Regions from separate parts of the Homo sapiens genome. Here all the other regions are reported to be linked to region 1. Evidence: microRNA targets listed by miRTarBase, many of them from high-throughput screens and not tested one by one. Region 1 holds a microRNA gene; each other region holds the end of a gene's coding sequence.

Region 1 (4,221 bases):
ACTACAGGTATTTCACTCAACAATGAGGTAGATTCTGTTGTTATTCCAAGTTTATACATGGAGAGACCATAACATCATGAGGTCAGGAAATCTAGCTAAGGTTACAAACAGCTACTCAGTGGCAGAGCAAGGATTTGAAGCCAGGTGGTCTAGATCCAGAGCCAGTGTGGGTTGGGCTGTGAGTAGTGGTTAAGGCTGGTGAGTATGCCCTGTACTAGCCAGCACCTTCTTTCCAACCTAAGCCGAGAGGGCTTCATAGATACCCAGGGGCACTGCAGGGAGGGCCCTCCTCTTTCTAGCTGAGGTCACCGAGGTGCAGAGAGGTGGAGGGACTTTCTCAAAGTCTCACCAGCAGGCAGCAGTGGCAAAGCTGGACCTCACATCTCCTCTGTGGTCCCACAGGAACAATTGGTAACAGTTGATAACGGGTGCCTGCCTGCTTTGTTTATAGCAATGATACAGGAAGAGAATTGATGGCCACTGGGCATCTGTTCCTCACTGGAGCCCACTGTGTGCTCACACCCAGCTTCACCTTGGAATGTGGTAGGGAGCAGGTTGGTGTGGCCCAGTTCCCTCCTACCATCCCCAGCTGGGAGAATCTAAGTGACGTATATCCTTTGGAATGAGGGGTTCCCTTTCTCATGTCACCTTTTAAGTTTGACATGATAAGAATCCAGTCTGGGCTGGATTTTACATTTCACTCTTATTAATTCTCTGTGTTTTAGGGCTCCTGGCTCCTCTCAGCATTGATTTCCTTTCTTTAGGAGCATGGGGTAGGTGAGGAGTGACCTGGAAGAGGTATCAGGACCATTCCTTAACATTTCTGATAATCGGTGCCTGTGAAGACATTCCCGCAGTGTCTGCGGAGTCCTAGAAAGAGAGCAGAGGCCACACAAAATGCTTTTCTGAACCCAAGATCGCCATACTTTGTGGAATCTTCCCATTGGACATAGCAGTGAGCACCCGTTTCCTTTCCTGCCCTCACCTGTTCCTGATTCGGAATGCTTCTGCCAAATAAATAGTCACTGGCTACCCAAGGAGTTTAAAGTCTAAGCCTGGTCAATGCACACCCAGAAGAGTTAAGTTCAGTGATAAAGGGAAATGTAGATGAACATACTAATTCAGCCCATGTGACCACTTTGGGCCTCAGCTGTTAGGTTGAGAAGTAAGAGGGGATTGAATGCGCTCCAAAGATCCGTTCAGTTCCTAATGTTGCTTAATTCTATACATGTGGCAAAAGGCTTGTAACATAAATTAAATGAAATTCCCTTATTAAATTAAAAAGAAGGTTGAGAACACATTCAGGTTGTTTTTGCCCTGGCCAGTAGACTCTCTTTAGCAGGCAGCCGAAAAGCTTAACTAAGAAGAATCAGCCCTTTATTGTTACTCTCTTTGGGGATGTTTATCTTTGTATGTTTAGAAATAAAAAACCTTGGTCCTTACTTTCAGCCCTGAAATAACCTGCTTTCCTTTAGTGAAGCTATTTTTTCCCTTGGGAAATTGAGATTCAAAGAGTAGAGAAGATGACCAGGCTCATAGCCTTCTGTGGTTCCTCGCACAGTGCCCTGGGGACGTGGCTAGGTGTTTACACACTGCCACAAGCAGGGCCAAATTCTGTCTACACATTCAGTGTGTAACTACTACCTTTCAACATAAGGAAGTTTGGTATCAGTCTTCTTGCAGCTGCTTTTTTTTTTTTTAAACCATCTTATTTTCACCTCCAGTTTGTTATTTACAAGCATCCATGCCGGTGAGGAGTTTTCTGAATGACCGATTCTTTCTTGGATGCAAAGAGAAAGTACCATCTCTGCCTCATGCTCTGTGTGATTTCTCTGTTTTCCTTTGGCACCTTTCTTAGTATTTGTTTGGTATACTTCCTTCGTCCCCTTTCCTGTAATTTTTTAGAGCACCTAGTTAGAGGCCCCACGTGGTGAGGATATGGCAGGGAAGGGGAGTTTCCCTCTATTCCCTTCCCCCCAGTAATCTTCATCATGCGGTGTCCCCAGTCCTGTGTAAGACCTTTGCAAACACAGCTTCAAGCCCCTCTGTTCATCTTGATTGCCTTCCCTCTGTAAAAAAGTTCTAGTCTCTGTGACTAAGAATGTTAACATTCTTCCTTTATTTGATTTTTAGCTATTATGCTTGGTGGGTTTAAAGATGACATTGTTATTGGGCAGTCTTCACTGTACATTACACACAAATGTAATTCTCCTGGGTAAATACGATCAACTTTTAGAGGTTCACCATTCCTCCTTTGCAATTCTTATGTCCAGTGAGCTCCTTCAAGGAAAAGGTTTCCCCCCCCCCCAGGCTTGTTCCAACCCCCCCAAAACAAAAAAAGAAACATGTAGGTCCAATAAAGAAAGGAGTGTCATGGAGCTCTCATGGGTACAGGCTGGAAGCTCCAGGCCTGGCGTGCTGGAGTCACGAGATGAGCTGTCCAGGCAGCATGGCATCGTGAGTGAACTCCGACCGTGGCAGGTGAGGCTTCTGCACTTAGCTGGCTGTCTTCATGTGGGCCGATTCTGTGGTTAGTGATTCTGATTTCTCATCTGAAAAGTGGTGCATCACTTAGCCCCTCCCACACTTGGAGGGTTCTACTAGTGTGCCTGCGTGGCTGGGTTCTGCACACTCAGCTACTTTAGTTTCTTTAGTCTATCCTTAAAAAGATTCCTAGGTGTGTTCCTGATTTTGAGGTTCCGTTTGGTCATTATGCTCTTTCAGAGTTCATCTTTTAAAATCAGTCTGTGGACATTTTTTTTTTCCTCTTAGCACAGTTTATGGTCTCATGCAGGTCAACAAATTGGGACTCTGAATGTGAGTGTGTGTGTCCACACACCACTAGGGCTTATTACCTTATTGTCAATGTTATCTTAAGAAAAAGTGGAGGCTGGGTGCAGTGGCTCATGCCTGTAATCCCAGCACTCTCAGAGGCTGAGATGGAAGGATTGCTTGAGCCCAGGAGTTTGAGACCAGCCTGAGCAACAAAGCAAGACTCCTGCCTCTACAAAGAAAAAAAAAAAAGAGAGAAAGAGAAGGAGAGAATGAAAGAAAAGAAAAAGAAAAGAAAGAGAGAGAGAGAAAGAAGAAAGAGGGAGTGATCAGAGAGCTGCAGGTTTGGAGTAGCCATCAGTTAAAGGAAGTCTGCAGAAAGTTTCTGTGAAAGGATTTTGTTACTATGGCCTTTCCCCTAGTACCAGCTTGTTAAGTAGTATAGGTAGGGGATCCTTGGTAATACTGTGTATTAAGATTTTATTGTTCTTCCTGTAAAGTGTTTTTCATGATAATGAGTTGCTTATTCTATGATAGTGCCTTTTCTCTATTTCTGTAAGCAGAATCAAATACAACTTTCAAGTTTTATTAGTTCTTTTTTTTTTAGAGACAGGGTCTTTCTCTGTCACCCAGGCTAGAGTGCAGTGGTGCAATCATAGCTCACTGTAACCTCCAACTCCTGGGCTGAAGTGATTCTCTTGCCTCAGCTTCTTGAGTAGCTAGGGCTACAGGCATGTGTCACCACGCCTGGCTAAATTTTTAAAAAAAATTTTAGTTTTTGGAGAGACACGAGTCTTACTATGTTGCTCAAGCTGGTCTCGAAGTCCTGGCCTCAAGCGATCCTACTGCCTTAGTCTCTCAAAATGCCTTAGTCTCTCTTAGTGCTCACAGTTGTGAGCCACCGTGTCTGGACAGCTTTCCATTTTTTGATGCCATGTCTGGTTAATACTCTTTAAGTTTCCGAGTTTCTTCCTCCTAGTTCAGTGGTTTCAAGTGTGACTGTTCTATTTCCTCACTGTCAGTCTCTAATAGAAATACTACAAGATTACTTCTATTGCTGCTGTAACAGCCACAAACTTAGCAGCTAAAGCCACACACATTTATTCTCTTTGAATTCTGTAGGTCAGAGGTCCCTTATGGGTCTCACTGGCCGAGATCAAGGTGTCTATTCCTTTCTGGAGGCTTGAAGGGAGAATCGGTCTCCTTGCCTTTTCTAGCTTCTAGAGGCTGCCCGTGTTCCTAGGCTCATGCCCCCTTCTCCAGTTTCAATGCCAGCAATGTCCAGCTGAGTCCTTGTCTCTCTGCCATCACACTGATACTCTCACCAAGCTGGGAAAAGTTCTCTGCTTTTCAGGATTGATGTGATTAGATTAGACCAAGCAGGTTAATGCAGCGTAATCTCCCATCTACAGGTACTTGATATAATGCCATCTCCCTGTAAGGCAACAT
Region 2 (4,221 bases), not on the chromosome of region 1:
TTTTATTCTGTACCAAGTGCACAATCCCTTCATTTTACTTTTGACATAAAAAAAGGACTTCATGAACAAGACAAAATAACTTATGATTATATGAAACATAACTGTGACAAATCACAAAACTATACATATTAATAGAAAAAAGTGTACCTAATTCTTTAAAAGATTTATGACAATAAGCACCAGATGTGCCTCTAGAGTAAAATCGGCCCCATATCCAGTATGATATATGCAGTTCATTTCTCTACGTGAGTGTATATAACTATGTACAAGAGTCTGTGTGATTTATGGAAAACAGATTTCCACTTTTTTCCCCCAAAGTGCTTTATGTCAGCAACATTACACAGGATACTTTGCTGTCTGTACAAAATAAATCTCTTTTTACACTCACTATTTCTCCAATGAGTGCTTTTTTTTTTTTGCTTCATCTGTTGCAAAAAAAAAAAAAAATAATAACCGCAGAAATTCCACACCACTAACAAAAAGTGCTATTTAAAAATGCTTCCATAAAATGACATGGCCAAGACAGTCAAATAAAATACCAAATAATTAAATTGAAAATGTACAGTTACTATTCCCAATACTTCAAGGCAACTGGAAAGTCAAGGTTCTCAGATGAGGGAGTTGAATTTATCCTTGCTCAAAATTGGTTTTAGGGGCTACTGTGCTTGACGGCTGGTAATTTAGAAACAACTGAACAAAGCCAACACTCTTATCAGTGGTAACTCTGCTGTGATCTACTAAAGACCTTTTTTTTTCTTCTTATTTTATGATCGCTTATGTAATTTGAGGGCGACATGGGTAATGGGAGATACCCCACAGGACCTGTAAATATTTAAATAATATTTAACAGCTGATCAGAGGCTAAATTACAACTGACATTTTGATGCAGTTTCGTTAGGGAATTAAGACAATGCAGCCAATGAAATGTCTCTAGGCAGACTGATTTTTTTTTTAATGCAATAGGATAATTGTCTTTGCGCTGTGTGTTTTCACAAGCACTAGTTTTGTGTTTTGTTTCTGTTTTTAAGGGGAATGACAATCTCTGTTTGGACATTTATGAAAATGGTTACATATCAAGACTTAAAAAGACCAGGACATGAAAGGGAATGATTTTTTTGAAGTTTCCACTTGTACTGCTGCAAAAATAATGATGAATATATATATAAATCTTCTGCAGTGTGAAAGTAAGCAAGGGACAAATTTTAAGGTCAGGAAAGACTCTCGAATCTAAGCATAGTGTGTGTAGTCTGGAAGGCATCTGAACGTGTCCTATCCTGAGGCTGCAATCTCAAGCCTGCAGCTATCAGGAAAGACCCACGGTGCGGGAAGCAGGGCTGCACTGGGTCCTGTGGCCAGCATGCTCTCTCTGAGATAAAATGTCCCTCTGGGGCTCCACATTGATTTCCTGCTGAGGAAGGAGGGCTGCAGGTGCCTCTATTGCTTACGCCCTCTTTAGAGTCCCTCTTGCCCCTGTGAGGTAAGAAAGGGGCAGGGTTACTGTGAGAGGCCACAGGAAGACTGGAGCCTGGTTCACAAGCAGCTCCTCTCAAAGAGGGAGGTGATGTCCATGGTTTCTAAAGTTGAGCTTCTGTCTTGTCCTCCTTCCCCCTTTCTATTTTAAATTACATAAAGCCAAAAGGCAGGGCTGACAATGTCAACTGCAATAACAACCTTGCCTTTTCATCTTTTTTCTCATTGTACAAATGAAATGAAATGTATTTTGAGTTCCTTGTAAAGGCTTCCATATTTAAGTATGAATAGATGGTTTCTCTGAAGATAGCAGAGTTTTTTTCTTTCCAGAGTATGACAAAGGACGCATGAGGGATGCTACTAGCTGTGAGCATGCATATGTTAGGCCACTTGTTTAGGCCAAGTGACACGACCCACAAAGTCTGCAGGAAGGGTGGTACTTTACAAGCAGCCTTGGAGTTCACTTGTAAAGGAAGCCTGGTGTGCATCTTTTGTAAAGCAGAGCAGGTTTTTTAAAGTGGCTAACTCATCTCTTTTGCAGACTTTGACGTCTACGTGAAAGCTTTTCTTAGAATACAGCCCACTACTCAGAGAAACTAGATTGACCAAGTGCACTGTGAAAACAAAACCCACACTTGGTTCTTCATTCACCTCATTCTACTGCATGTTGGAATGAACTCTGGAATCAGGTAGAATACTTCCGCTTGTGGGACTGTGGAGGGAGACTGGAAGGACCTGTCAGTATACAAACTGTCACAGAATCCCATCTAACATCAAGCTGTTTTAGTTGTCTTGTTGAAGATTGTAATGATCTCAGTTTGATAAATGGCATTGTTTCACTTTTGTTCAGAAAAACATTTTTAAAAAGTGAGAAAAAATACTTGAAATATGATAGTACCAGAATGTTAGAACTTACTGTGTCTTTGGGACTGGCCAATTTTTATAGCTGATGCCCTAGGACTTAGGATCTGTAATAGCTATGTAGAGGTGTCACAGAAAATGACTTCCTATTTAGGCTTGATATTTTCGACCAAGTGCTATGTGAAAATTCCAGGCCTTCAAACTGGAACTCAGAAAAAGAATTGCCTCTTTCTGTAGACTTTTCGAGAACTGTCACCTCTACCTTCCCAAGATGATCAGACAATGGCGGCTGGTGGGGATATATGAACCACAGTCAGGAAGAGGGTAAGAGGGATGCAAAAAGAGGGTGGAGAGAAGTGTAGGGAAGAGACAGACAGATGAGTGGATATCCTGAAAAACGTTAGTAAAATCTGAGCACTGGAAGTCAAGTATCACTAGGTTTGGTTTTCCAAGGGAAGCTGGCACATGACTCAGTCTGTCCCAGTTCTCACATCTGGCACTTCTCTGGGTGCAGCACCAGAGTGGAGGCAATGGGTAAACCAGTCAAACAACATTTTTCTTTGAACACAGTCTTTGAGGTGGAGTTACTAAACAGTCAACTCAGGAAGGTTCCAGCTACAGGACTGTTGGTGCGGGAGGTGCCCACTCCATTTCCCTCAGGTAACCTTTGCTAACTGCAAAACTAACATGCTAGAGGTGGGGCCAGGCAGAACCACAGCTGTGCAAAATGTCTATAGCTGGGGTGATTACAATAATAATGATTTCCATCCAAAGCACAGACCTTTACATTTTTTTTTCATTTTAAAATACGTATAAATAACTAAGTCTTTAAAATGCAAAAACAAGGATAGGCTGCTGGCATATAAAACCTTATTTTTCTATTGAAGAGAAACACTGAGAAGCAACTGGTTAGCATGTGGCTAAGAGAAAAGGGAAACCCAGGGAGTTTCTAAGAGTTGAGACCACACTATGCTTTGGACATGGATTTCCCTTGTTGTGCCTGGCTTTGCATCAGGAGCAGCAAGGGTGAGGATTAGGTGAGGCAGGTCACTATGCCTCTCGTAATTGAGGTCTTTTTCCCTGTTTGGAGTTTTCAGGTAGAGTCATCCCCAAACTACATTTTCATATGCACATCATTTCACTGGGGTCCTTTAAGGGTTGACAGCCAGGAAGTAACAGGTATCCAGGAGAGTGAGGCTCTAAATTCCCTTTGAAAAGACAGTCCTCCTGGTCACATAGTCCAGGAAAACCAGAGAGAAAAAGGAGCAACTGTAATGATTCCTGCAAAGCTAGCTCTGCCATTCAGTCCTGCCTTCTGAAAGAACATCAGTAACTCTGCAGGGCCCGCTGATTGGGCTGACATCCTTCCTCAAGCAGTCTGTGAGAGTACGAAAACAAAAGGTGGCAAGCAACATCAAGGTCCTGGGTGTGCAGGAGTGGCCAAGAGAGCTTTTAGCCTTCGGTGTAGACAGAGGAGAGCTGGCTAGGACAGCGGTCCACGGTGCTGATCTGCAAGAAGGTAGCATCTTCAGCCCCGCTGCGGAGAGACTCCCCAAAGAGGCTCGAGGAACTTGAAGGTAAATCATACACTGGAAGAGAAAGAACGCAGTTAAGTCAGTAACTCCTGCCCCATGCCACGCCCACTGGAAATGCACTACAGTAATGCAGCTCACCAAGTGAGGACTGGGGGCTAAGGAGGCAACCATGCCAGCCTGGGCCCTATAGTGAGTCTCTGTTTCCAGCGACCTTAGTGAGGGAAGAGGCTGACTTGCAGGCAGCTGGCTAAAATATGACCACACAAAAGACAGGCTGAGAAGAAGTAAAAGAAAAGTGTTCTAGGGAAGGCTGGGGGTGGCCTCAAAAAGGAGCTGGTGTTAAGGTTGAGTCATG
Region 3 (4,221 bases), not on the chromosome of region 1:
GAGGAGCTTCCTGAGTCTGCCTGAAGGACCCCAGTGCTGCGACAGGACACAGTCTCCATGGAGACATGAAGTCCTCTGGGATGCCTGCACCAAGGCAAACTAGCTGGCCGAGGAGCACCATTCAGCTGTGAGAGCGGCCACAGGGGGCTCAGCACAGCCTTGGTCCGTAGCACCCAGTGGAGGGCAGGAACCACACAAGCCAGCCTAGCAAAGCTCCGTCTCCACAGTGCTCCATGCTCACCGGCAGCTTCTCCTGTCCAGTGCTGGCTGCCAAGGGACATTCTGGCCTCAGCAGACATGGGCCACCTGGGGCTCTCAGAGCTTGTTTAACAGGAGAGGGCAGCACCTTAAAACTCTCAGGAGCTACTGACAGTGTGTTTAACATGTTTAAAAAGAGAGCAATTGGGTTTGCTTTTCCTCTTCATTAACTTCATCCCTCCCCCGGGGCAGGCTCTAACAGGCCACTTCCTTTCTTTCTGTATCTACTGATCAGTCAGATGACAACACAGGGGCCACCAGGGCTACCACGCACTGCCTGAAGCACAGGATACATCTTTGAAGTGTGGTTCTGGACATCTACTATCTTTCAAGAGCAGATATCCCATCCGAGTATTTTCCAATCCAGGGCAAATGCCTCCAGGTCCCAGAGGAGTACACTAGACTCTCAATCTTTTCTGTTTTTATAATGATGATGATTTTTGAGACAGGGTCTTGTTCTGTGATCTAGGCTGGAGTGCAGTGGCACCATCATACCTTACTGTAACCTCAAACTCCTGGGCTCAAACAATCCTCAAGGCACGTGCCACCAAGCCTGGTTAGTTTTTTTCACATTTTTGGGTAGAGATCAGGTCTCGCTATGTTGCTCAAGCTGCTGTGAAACTCCTGGCTTCAAGCAATCCTCCTGCCTTGGCCTCCCAAAGCAGGGGGATTATGCCCGCCAATCTTTTCCGCTTTTAAATACCACGAAGCAAGTCATTAAAACAACTCCCATTCTGGAAGCTCTTAATTTTTTAAAATTTCCAAATACCACGTATATCAACCTCCAAATTGTTAGCAGAAATAGAAGCACTCTGGCTCTGGAGGCTGAGGCAGGAGGATGGCTTAAGCCCAGGAGGCAGGGGCTGCAGTGAGCTATGATTGTGTCACTGCACTCCAGCCTTGGTGACAGAGGGAGACCCTGTCTCTTGAAATTTTTTTTTTTTTTAAGGGAGAAGCAATCCTATATACCACAGGTTGGGAAACTGGGGCCTTTGGGGCAAATCTGGCCCACCGTGCATTTTTATAAATAAAGTTTTACTGGCACACAGCCCTGACCACTCGTTGTGTATTGACTATGGCTGGTTTTACAATACAACAGCAGAGCTTAGTGGCTGTGACACAGCCTGCAGCCCACAAGGCCTAAATATCTAGCCCTTTACAGAAAACACTGGTTGACCCCTGTACACTAGAAGTGGCTTCACACTGTCTACAGTTTCCCTCGGGATGGACCCACAATGAAAGCGTGAAACGGCTCAACCCGAGGGACGCAGCCAGGACAGATAAGGAAGGTAAAGGAACATGTGGAGGGATGTGGAGGATGCCCCCGCCCGCCCCCCACCTGTGGGAGGAGACAGATGGACAGGGCACAGGGGACAGAGAGGGCCCAACTCACCTGTGGCCTGGCAGAAGAGGTAGAAGTTCCCCAGGGCGTGCACGTGCTGTGCCTGGTCACTCAGGAAGGGCGGCAGCAAGGAGACCCTCGAGCTGCTGTCGGGCCCCGCACCCGAGGCTGGCCAGGGGGTCCAGGGAGAGGAAAGCCTCCTGTCCCCCACATGGCCCAGACAGGACAGGGAAGAGGAGCCAGGAGGAGGGAGGGGCTTAGGAGACGAGGCTGTGAGACAGAGAGGACAGAAAAGAGAGGGCACTGAGGAAGAAGTCGCCAGGAGCACGTCACAGGCCAGAGAGGGCAAAACACAGCAGGAAACGGACAGAAAAGAGCGAGCCCAGCTGTCCCGCCTGGGCCATGCAGGGGCGGGAGGCTGCACAGCCTCCGCTAAGGAATGTCTTCCCCAAATCAAGGATAGAAGCTTCTCATTTATTTGGGTACTTTCCAAATGTATACAATTCAAAGTAGAAAAATAAAAACAAGGTAAATCTTATAAAACACAAATGTTTACACCAAAATGGTCAAATCCTATCATGCTGGAAGATAAGACTGTCCACACACGCGCACAAACATCCAGAGTTTATTGCTCTTCACCATGGAAAAAAAGTCTCTTCCCGATGGGTATTTACAAAGCGGGGAGATGGAGTGTGAAATTAACCAGTGTTGAAATCGTACCACCCATTCACATCTTCAGGACAGTGGCAGGAACAGCGCCGTATGCTTGAGGGTGCTGTGGTCACAGCTCGCGGCCCCGGCCACCGAGGCCCAGTTCCCTTCCAGTAGTGGGCAGCTCAGTGAGGCTGGATAGAAAGTCTGGGCAGGCAGTGGGTAAGCAATTGAAGCAAGAAGAGAAAGGAGATGTTCAGAGAACCAAAGGCGCCCTTGTGAAGGTTCCATCTGTCTCACAGGAGGTTCTGACCGACAGCTGTGGGCTCCAGATTGTACCGCACTCCCATCTCAGCTCTGGGCCAGCCTGGCTCCACTCAGCTCATCCAGGCTACCTTCCCTTGCTCAAAACCCACCTCGTGGATGTGGGAAGGTCCTCTTCTTCGAGAGAGTAAAAGTTAAAAAAAAAGAAAAGTAAAACGAAGTACAGAAAGAAAATCTCTCCAAAAACAATGCTTCCCTCAAGGAATAAAGTTAAAAAAAAAAAAAGAAAAAGAAAAAAGGTGAGTGGGCTCCGGGGAGTGTTTATGTCTACATTTCTAAAAGCAGAAAGAATGCATTTAGCAAAAGGAAGTTTATCCCTGAGAATCTTAAGCAACGTAAGCCGTATTTTATGCCAAATATATAACAAAATCTGGAAGATATACATCTTCTTCTAAATATTAACACAACTGCTTCTGTAACTAAAAAAAAATGACCCATGACATAAACACAATCAAAGCAAAATCCTAAAAAAATAATTAAGTGGAAGAAAAGGTTCGTGCCAATCTGGACAACAGGCGATAAGTTACCAATCTGATAAACTAAAATGTCATTTCCAATCTGGAATTAAATAATCTTTTAGTGGCTGCTACGGGGAGGGGAAGCTGAAGGGATGCTCTTCTCAGCCAACAGAGGTCCAGCCACCTTTCCCCCACTACAGAAAGGGCTCAGGAACTCCGTGCCGCCCGTGGGCCTTCTTCAAGTACTCCGACTGACTTCGGAACACAAGACTGGGATGCAATGCTTGTCATTTTTCCAAAAGGACAAAGAGAAACCAAGTCACAGGCTCAACCCAAGAGAAAATAGACAAGAGGACTGAGGTTGTCTGCACGATGCGGGCTAACCTACGCAGCACTGCACGAGACTCGGATACTGAACAGGAGAAACACAAAACTCTCCACGCCTGGACACGTCGCAGCCGAGGCACCAGCGGGGATGCACAGCCGGCCTCAGTCTCCATCTGCGTCTGAGTCAGCGAACTTCAGCTCACACTTGACGTCAAAGGGCTTGTCCCTGGCAGAAAGGTCGTCGATCCTCTGTGAGTCCTCCCTATCCGTGGGGACTTTGCTGGTGATGGTGTCTTGCTCGGTCTCATAGCCGGTGTCCAGGGCTGGCTTGGGGTGCTCCCCATTCTGCTGGGAGAAGCTCCCTGGCTCTACTAACGTCTCCTTCAGGCTCTGCTCACGGTCACAGAAATCTGACTTGGGCTTCTTCTTCCCAATTAGTAGGGCCGAGCGGAATTTCAAGCACTGTCTGGGCAGGTATCCCTTATAGCAGTTGTAGAAAAAGAGGCAGAGGAAGAGAACAAAGAAGAAGAGGAAGAGGGACATGAGGAGGCGGTTGTCGCTGGACTTAAGATACATGGTTTTCTCCGAGTGGAGCTGGGGGACCGTGTTGATGACGATCTTTGGTTCGCAGGATGTGCCGGTGGGCGCAGGCTTGGGAGGAAGGGTGATGGCCCCGGAGGAGGTGGCCTGCACGGCTGGGGTTGGGGGAGAAGACCCTTGGGTGGATGCCACCAACACTTTGGTGGCAATCCTACTACCTTCTGTCTGAACAACTGACAAGGTGGGGGCCACTACGGGCTTTGGAACCACCTTCACTTCCAGGACGTGCTTGGCGACCACTTGGAAGACCGTTTTGTTCTT

Evidence for each region. The annotated mature microRNA hsa-miR-3679-3p reads CUUCCCCCCAGUAAUCUUCAUC and lies in region 1 at 1,970-1,991, shown strand. An mRNA with a match to its seed (bases 2 to 7 or 8) in the 3' UTR can be bound and repressed. Matches are read on the target gene's strand: a 7mer-m8 pairs with bases 2 to 8, a 7mer-A1 pairs with bases 2 to 7 and ends in A, and an 8mer does both.
Region 2: miRTarBase lists GLIS3 as a target of hsa-miR-3679-3p. Seed matches in the 3' UTR shown: 7mer-m8 at 1,603-1,609 and 8mer at 307-314.
Region 3: miRTarBase lists SEMA4D as a target of hsa-miR-3679-3p. Seed matches in the 3' UTR shown: 8mer at 3,219-3,226.

What each region holds. Positions count from the first base shown.
Region 1 is chr2:134,125,199-134,129,419 of GRCh38, forward strand. It overlaps MIR3679 (microRNA 3679), which reads left to right and starts at 1,927; the gene lies at 1,927-1,994. It also overlaps a transcript of MGAT5 not described here.
Region 2 is chr9:3,824,489-3,828,709 of GRCh38, forward strand. GLIS3 (GLIS family zinc finger 3) reads right to left here. Exons shown (of 11, transcript NM_001042413.2): 11 at 1-3,920. The coding sequence ends at 3,784. Among named protein-coding and RNA genes, the nearest start is that of GLIS3-AS1, 72 kb to the right of the region's middle.
Region 3 is chr9:89,375,182-89,379,402 of GRCh38, forward strand. It overlaps SEMA4D (semaphorin 4D), which reads right to left. Exons shown (of 16, transcript NM_001371194.2): 16 at 2,054-4,221. The coding sequence ends at 3,523. Among named protein-coding and RNA genes, the nearest start is that of SECISBP2, 59 kb to the left of the region's middle. RefSeq lists a silencer at 215-274 and an enhancer at 745-854.